Homo sapiens: one gene and its partner. The protein of the gene in region 1 interacts with the protein of each later gene in a pairwise test. Each region holds a gene or a part of one and is shown on either strand. Other genes may lie near its edges.

The links. Proteins that work in one complex are often made in the same cells at the same time.
Region 2: the proteins of ZSWIM8 (region 1) and PRMT2 interact in a two-hybrid assay, tested with the Homo sapiens proteins (one large-scale study listed by BioGRID and IntAct).

What each region holds. Positions count from the first base shown.
Region 1 is NC_000010.11:73,788,606-73,792,105, reverse strand, and holds part of ZSWIM8 (zinc finger SWIM domain-containing protein 8), read right to left. Parts: intron 3,437-3,500; coding exon 3,283-3,436; intron 3,011-3,282; coding exon 2,916-3,010; intron 2,740-2,915; coding exon 2,567-2,739; intron 2,390-2,566; coding exon 2,282-2,389; intron 2,151-2,281; coding exon 2,069-2,150; intron 1,935-2,068; coding exon 1,814-1,934; intron 1,132-1,813; coding exon 930-1,131; intron 783-929; coding exon 607-782; intron 248-606; coding exon 1-247. UniProt on the Homo sapiens protein: Substrate recognition component of a SCF-like E3 ubiquitin-protein ligase complex that promotes target-directed microRNA degradation (TDMD), a process that mediates degradation of microRNAs (miRNAs).
Region 2 is NC_000021.9:46,656,174-46,659,673, reverse strand, and holds part of PRMT2 (protein arginine N-methyltransferase 2), read right to left. Parts: intron 930-3,500; coding exon 754-929; coding exon of another isoform or gene 750-753; exon of another isoform or gene 1-749. UniProt on the Homo sapiens protein: Arginine methyltransferase that methylates the guanidino nitrogens of arginyl residues in proteins such as STAT3, FBL, histone H4. Acts as a coactivator (with NCOA2) of the androgen receptor (AR)-mediated transactivation.

The sequences.
Region 1 (3,500 bases):
CCCAGAGCGGGAGGCACCTGGCCGAGAGGGCAGGGCCCGGGCCCAGCACAGTGCCAGCTTCCTGTCAGTGCCGCTGTAGGTGACACCAGGAAGTGGGTAGGCCTCTTCCCAGTTGAAGTAGCAGGCCTCCACCGCTGGCCGGAAGCCGGGGAAGAGCCGCTCCAGCGTCTTCTTGTGTTGGCCCCGCTTGACGTTCTCAATCACCTTCAGTTGCCACTGCCGCAGCTGCGTACACAGTTCCCGGCGCCTGTGGGAACAAGGGGCAGGAGGCTGCTGAGGGGCTACTGGGAAAGGATGGGCATGGAGTAGGTGTACACCCCAAAGAGAGGCATGGGGAAAGGATACAGGAAAGTACTTCTTGACCCAGCCCCATAAGCATCACTGAAACACTGGAGAATTTTGAAAAGTGGGTGTTATTTAGGGGAAGGAAGGATGAAAGCCTCTCAGAAAAAGGACTCGTAAATCACTGCTAACACCAGTGCTCAGCACCTCCCGTTTCCCGAGGACTAAAATCATGGTATGTCTCTGCAAACAAGGAGATGAAGGCTCAGTCTGTCCTGAGCTGGCCCAGGCTCAGTTCTGTGGTGAGCCTCAGGGGAGACTCACCGCTGGGGGCTGAGTGCAGGGTCCAGCACGGCCAGCCTCCACAGTGTGACCATCTCGTCACACATGCTGGCACAGGCATGGGCTGCCACCTCTGACTGCCCGTTGCTACGGCCCGTGTGCCCACTGGCACTGCTGTGTGAGGCTGAGGTACGTACGCTATACCACCAACCTGTTATCTGGAGACAAAGAAGGCTGTGAGCTGCACCTGAGAGCTCAGAGAAAGGCAGAGTAGCCCTCCCAGAGTCCATTTCAGCAAGAGGAGGATGAGGCAGGGGGAGGGAAAGAATGAGCTACCACGGGGCTCCCCAACGCTGAGTGATTACCTGTTCATAGGTGAGGCACTGGTCAGTGAGGATTTCCAACAAGGGGGCAGCATTGCTGTCCCTCCGCTTGAACATCTCCCGCACAATGCTTAGCAGGTTCCAGACGCCCTCTGGCTCACGGCCCCTCAGAGGGCGCAGCAGACATGCCCATTCAGCAGCGGCTGGCGGCTCCGTGGAAGACAGATACATGGAGTTCACATCACTGTAAAAGCAGAGGAACAGAAAACCATGACAGTAAGACGGGGCTGAATGAAACCTAAAAGGGCTTCCGGCCCCAAAATACAGAAGATAGAGGGAAAAAGACATCTGTAACAAAATTTTTTTTTTTGAGACCAAGTCTTGCTCTGTCGCCCAGGCTTGAGTGCAATGGCGCGATCTCACCTCACTGCAACCTCCACCTCCCGGGTTCAAGCAATTCTCCTGCCTCAGCCTCCCAAGTAGCTGAGATTACAGGCGCCCGCCACCACGCCTGGCTAATTTTTGTTTTTTTAGTAGAGATGGAGATTCGCCATGTTGGCCAGGCTGGTCTCGAACTCCTGATCTCAGGTGATCTGCCCACGTCAGCCTCCCAAAATGCTGGGATTATAGGTATGAGCCACCGCCCCCAGCCACAAAAACTCTTTAAAAAATCTTTCTCTGTTTCCATTTCCTGATCTATCAAAAGAAGAAAAGGAACTCTTGCTAGGTAAGAGCAGACCACTCTGTGACTGTACAAGGTCATCATCTTCCATCAATTCGTTAGTGACAACTGTGTGCCAGGCACTGTGCCAGTTCAGGGAATAAAAGGTAGGGGTCACAGGCATGAATAGAAGAAAGGATCTGTCATCAGCCTGAGGGACGCTCCCCCTCCACCACAGACACAGGTATGCAGAGATCCGATTTACCTGAAGACCACAGGGGAGGGGCCACAGAACTTGTGCAGTGTCTTTTTGATGTTGTCAGTGAGTGTCGATTCATCCAGATACCAAGTACTCTGGTCCGATGCTGAGGGCCCTGCTGTGGGGTCTGAGGATGACAGGCAGTCAGTCATCTAGAGATAGGGGCCTGGATTTGCCTGACAACAGCAAGCCTTGAGTAAATGGCGCTCTGTACTACAAGCTGGCTTTCTTCCTACTGCCAATCTTTCTCACCACACTCACCCGGAGCTCCACACACTGTATTGATGGCTGTTGACTGGGAAGACAGGAGTTCGTCCAGGAGACGCTGAGCTGTGGGGAGGATCTGAGGGAGAAAGAGACGGAGGCAGGCAGAACACGGCCTAGGTGAACCCATGGAGGCCTGGGCCTAACAGGAAGGCTGTTATGCGGCCTGGCCCGGAGCTAATTGCAGGAGGGGGTGCCGACCTCACCCACCTGCTGAGGGAGCTCACTGATGAGGTACTGAGCAAACTTTTGCAGCTGGTCCCTCTGTAGCCGGGACAGGGACTCTGAGACTGGGGCTCGCAGGCAGACTGCAGAAGCCTGAAGGGGACACAGAGAAAAATGGAACAATCTGAGAACAGGTTTGCTGGAGCTGGAGCTGGGGGACAGAGAGGCAGAGTAGGCGAGGCGAGGGGGCTCACATTGTAGCCAGGCATGCAGCAGAGAAGGGGGGGATGGAGTGTAGGATAGGGCCGGGATAAATTGGGAGGGCCTCACGTTGTGGATGCGGAAGAGACAGAGTGCCACGACGTGGGTGCACCATTTGGCCCCAGCCCCACAGGTACAGCTGCAGGAAGTGACCCGGCAGCGGTCAAACATCACAGCCACGTTGTAGGCCCCTTTAGGAGGGACCATCTGAGGTGGCACCACTGTAGCACTCAGGTGGAACCCTGGGGAGAAATGGGGGCATGGTCAGGGAGTGCTGTCAGGACCTGGGTCTCTGCCCTTGACCCTGGCCCTGCAGTTATTCAGACAACATGCTCCAGCTTCTTGCGGTGTGTTCTTACTTCATAAGCCAGGGGATGGGAGGAGCAGGATGTGCCACATGGCATGATGGCCCACTCACCTATCTGCAATGGGTCCTTCACAGCCCGCATGCGGAAGAGCTGATCCCCTCGCTGAAACTCATCCGCACTGCCATTGGCCAGGCACGAATACAGCCTGGGGGTGAAGAAGAGGACACAGCCACAACTCAGCAAATAACCTTTGGCAGACCCTGTCAGAGACCACAATGCCCTAGGCACTCTCTCCCTAGCCTCATTCCTTCCCCAGGGCGGGGGGTGGGGGGGAGGGAGTGGAATCCCAGGCAATCCCTCCCTTGTCTTCCTCTTACCACTGCCCCAAATACAATGTCTCCTTTGTTCTATGGGAAACCCAGCAGACAGTGTGGAGTATCAGGACCCCGCTCCCCACCATCAGTCCTTTGGCCTCACCGAATGTCCTCTTCATTCTCAGGGAAGCTCCAAAAAGCAATTCGGAGCTGTAGCTGCTCAGGCACTGGTGGGTAAACTTTCTCCACCACTTCAAATGGGATATGAAATGCCACCTGCTTTGCTGACAGCTCCACCAATGGGATCACCAGTCCATCTTTGCAAACAATGGTTGGGATCAGGGGAAAGAGAATAGGAAATGAAAAGGGCCATGGTCTCTT
Region 2 (3,500 bases), on another chromosome or scaffold:
CTCCCTGCCACTGCCAGGCAAGCCTGGGCTACTATTTTAATTTACTCTTTGCTTGTCTGGTAGGGAAAACAGCATGTATTTTAATTCGCATTTTAACTACTAACAACATTATAATTTTTCATATATTTATTGGTAATTTTATTTATTTTTTGCGGTTTGCCTGTTCACATGATTGGGCTGCAATTCCATCTGGCTAGTCATCTCTTTCTAATTGATTCCAAGACCTGACAGCACGTGATTTCTCTAATTACTTGTTTGCTTTTACAATCGTGTTTTTGCTGATTTCTGCCACATAGACTGCCAGATTCTATCTAGCCCAGGGTCCATTCCATCCATTGTTGCTGCTCATTTCTCCACCTAAGATGGTGCACACAGGCCCCCATGGATGTCTGTCGCTGACGCTGATTCCATGCAGAATTAAGTTTTCACGTATGGCGTGAGAGAACAAGGGCTAATCAACTGCTCCAGAATAATTTGCTGACTTGGCCCTCACTCCCTCCTAATCGTAATGCCACCTTTTTCACATACGAAAATTTTTGTTCCTTGCATTCTACCCTGCTCTGCCCATCTGTCTTGTTATAGCACCATACTGCTTTAATTACTCCAATGCTACAACAGATTGTCCTATCTGGGTGCACAGGTACCCTCATTTATCCAACCGTCGTATGGGATCTCCCAGGGCCTTGGCCCACCTGCAGACTGTGGACCAGGAGGCCCCACAAGACGGTGCCAGTCCCAGCTGTGGACACTTACTTCAGAGCGCTGAGGTTGAACTCGTACGCGTTGTCCCAGAAGAGCACCTTGCTACGATAATCCTTATCAGCACTGCAGGGCACAAGGTGCAACGCAGCCATGGTGGGCCAAATGACCCCGTCCTCCTTCAGCCAGGCATCCCGGGCATACAGGATGGACTCGATCATGAACTCAAACTGCATAGGAGTGAAAGACACACAGGAGACACATCACAGGCCCCGCGGCTGCACAGGCCTCTCACCACCACATTCGTAACACTAGTCTGACAGTTCTACAGTTTTAGCCTCAAGAATATTCCTGCCTAGGCCAGTGTACCATGCAAGAGAACATCTCGAGGGTTTATTTTATGCCCACACGTCACTGATGCATCTCACAGCCTGGGTTTAAGTCACATAATTTCCCATTAGAACTATGAACTGGAGCAGAGCTAAAAGCAAGGACAAATCTTCACTCTTGTCCCATCTCAGTCACGGAAGAGCTCGTAGCTACCAGATTTTGAAAGAGCCCTGAAGTGTTGCCGGGTCCCAACTGTTACATAAAATATATTTGGTCCGTAGCATTCTCAGAATTTTCACACCCTTTAAGTGGACTGAAATCACTGCTTAAGAAACCGAAAGCCACGCAGGCATGCCCTGGCCATTCACGGGTCCTTTGGTCCACCTTGCATCCCTCAGAAGGTCCCAAGTCAAGGGAAGCACATCACATCTATGACTGAGGAAGTGGGGACCCAACGCCCTCAAAGGCCAGGCTTTCTGTCTGAACCAGAACTTGCTTCAAACACAGAAAGGAGTAGAGGGAGCACCAGCGAGGTGGGGCCAAGGCCTGTGGCCCCTGCAAACCACCCAGGGAGCCTGCACTTCATCCTGTAGTTGATGAGAAACAACAGAAGTGTTTTGCTTCCTTAAATAATCTCAAGCTGCTTTTATTACAGAAGTAATACATGTTTTGTACGGAAAATGTAGAAAACTTAGAAAAGCTCAAACAAACATAAAAATCACATATTAACCCAGTACCTAGAAGGAACCACTGTTATCACTCTGCAGTTTACCTTCAAGTATTTTTCTACACACGCACACAAAAAATATATACATCTTATTTTTCAATCTTATTTTTTCAGTTATGTAGTGAAACAGCTTTTCTGGCGTACAGCCTACGAACTTGAGCGCTTGTGTGGATTTTGTCCTCACAACCACAGCCAGCATACACACAGCTCTGCCACCCAAAACACTCTTCACCCTTTTCTCTGGTGGTCATGCCCTCCCCGACCCCAGCCTCTCCAGCCACCGATCTGGTCTCCATCCCCATGGTCTTGTGTCTTTTTGAGAATATCATACAAATGGAACCAAACAGTACATAACCTTTCAAGACAAGTTTCTTTCACTCACTGTACCGTTTCTGGGGTTCCTCCAAATTACCTGTTTCAATAACTGGCTCCTCTTCACTGCTCAGTGGTATTCCACTGTGTGGACGCACCAGTTTATCCTTAAGGATTATCCAGATGAAGGACACTTGGGTTGTTTCCAGGTTTTGTTTTTTTTTTTTTTGCAATTATAAAGAGAGCTAGTATAATCATTCACATACAGGTTTTTGTGTGAACACAGCTTGCATATCTCTGGGTTGAACACACAGGAGAGGGACTCCTGGGCATAAGGTGAGTGCACATACAAGTCTATAAGAAAGCACCCACCTGTTTCCACAGTGGCATGTTCCCTCCAGCAATGCATGACTTTCAGCTGTTCCTCATCCTCGATGACAGTTGGTATTACTATCAGATTTTTTTTTTATTGTAGTCATTTTTCAATGGGTGTAAGTGATATCTCACTGTGGCTTTAATGTGCATTTCCCTGATGGCTATGCTGAACATCTTTTCATGTGTGTATTTGATATCTGTATATCCACTTTGGTAAAGTGTCTGTTCAAGTATTTTGCCCATTTTCAATTGGCTTGTTTTCTTCCTGTTGAGTTTTGAGATTTCTCTGTATATTCAGAACACACACTGGATATGTTCTTTGCAATATTTTCTCCTAATCTTAGCTTGTCTTTTTTATTCTCTTAGCATCATCCTTTTGCAGAGCAGTCATTTTTAGTTTTGATGAAATTCAATTTATCAACATTTTCTGCTATGGATCACGCTTTTAGAGTAAAAAGTCTTTGCCCAAGTCCAGGTGATGAAGATTTTCTATGATTTTTTCAAGGAGGTTTATAGTTTTACATTTCACACACTTAGATCTATGATCAATTTTAAGTTCAGCTGTGTATGAGATGTGAGGTTGAGGTGTTGTTTTTTAGATATGGATGACAACTATTCCAGTAACATTTGCTGAAAAGACTGTCTTTTCTCCATTAAATTGATTTTTGTACCTTTGTTAAAAAAAACCCATTGACCATATTTGTAGAAATCTCTCGTCTCCATTCCATTGACTTACGTGTCTGTCCCTTCACCACATTGTCCTGATTACTGTAGCTTCAAAATCAAGTAGTATAGTTCCTCCAACTTTACCCTTCTTTTAAAAAATTCTATCAGCTACTCTAGTTCTCTTAGTCCATTTTTGTGTTGCCAAAAAGGAATATCTGAGGCTGGGTAATTTATAAAGAAATGAGGTTTATTTGGCTCATGGTTCTGCTGGTTGGGAAAGTTCAGGATTGGGCATCCAGTGAGGGCTTCAGGCTATTTCCCCTCACGGTGGAAAGCAAAGGGGAGCTGGCACGTGCAGAGACCACAGGGTGGGAGCAGAGGCAAGTGGGCG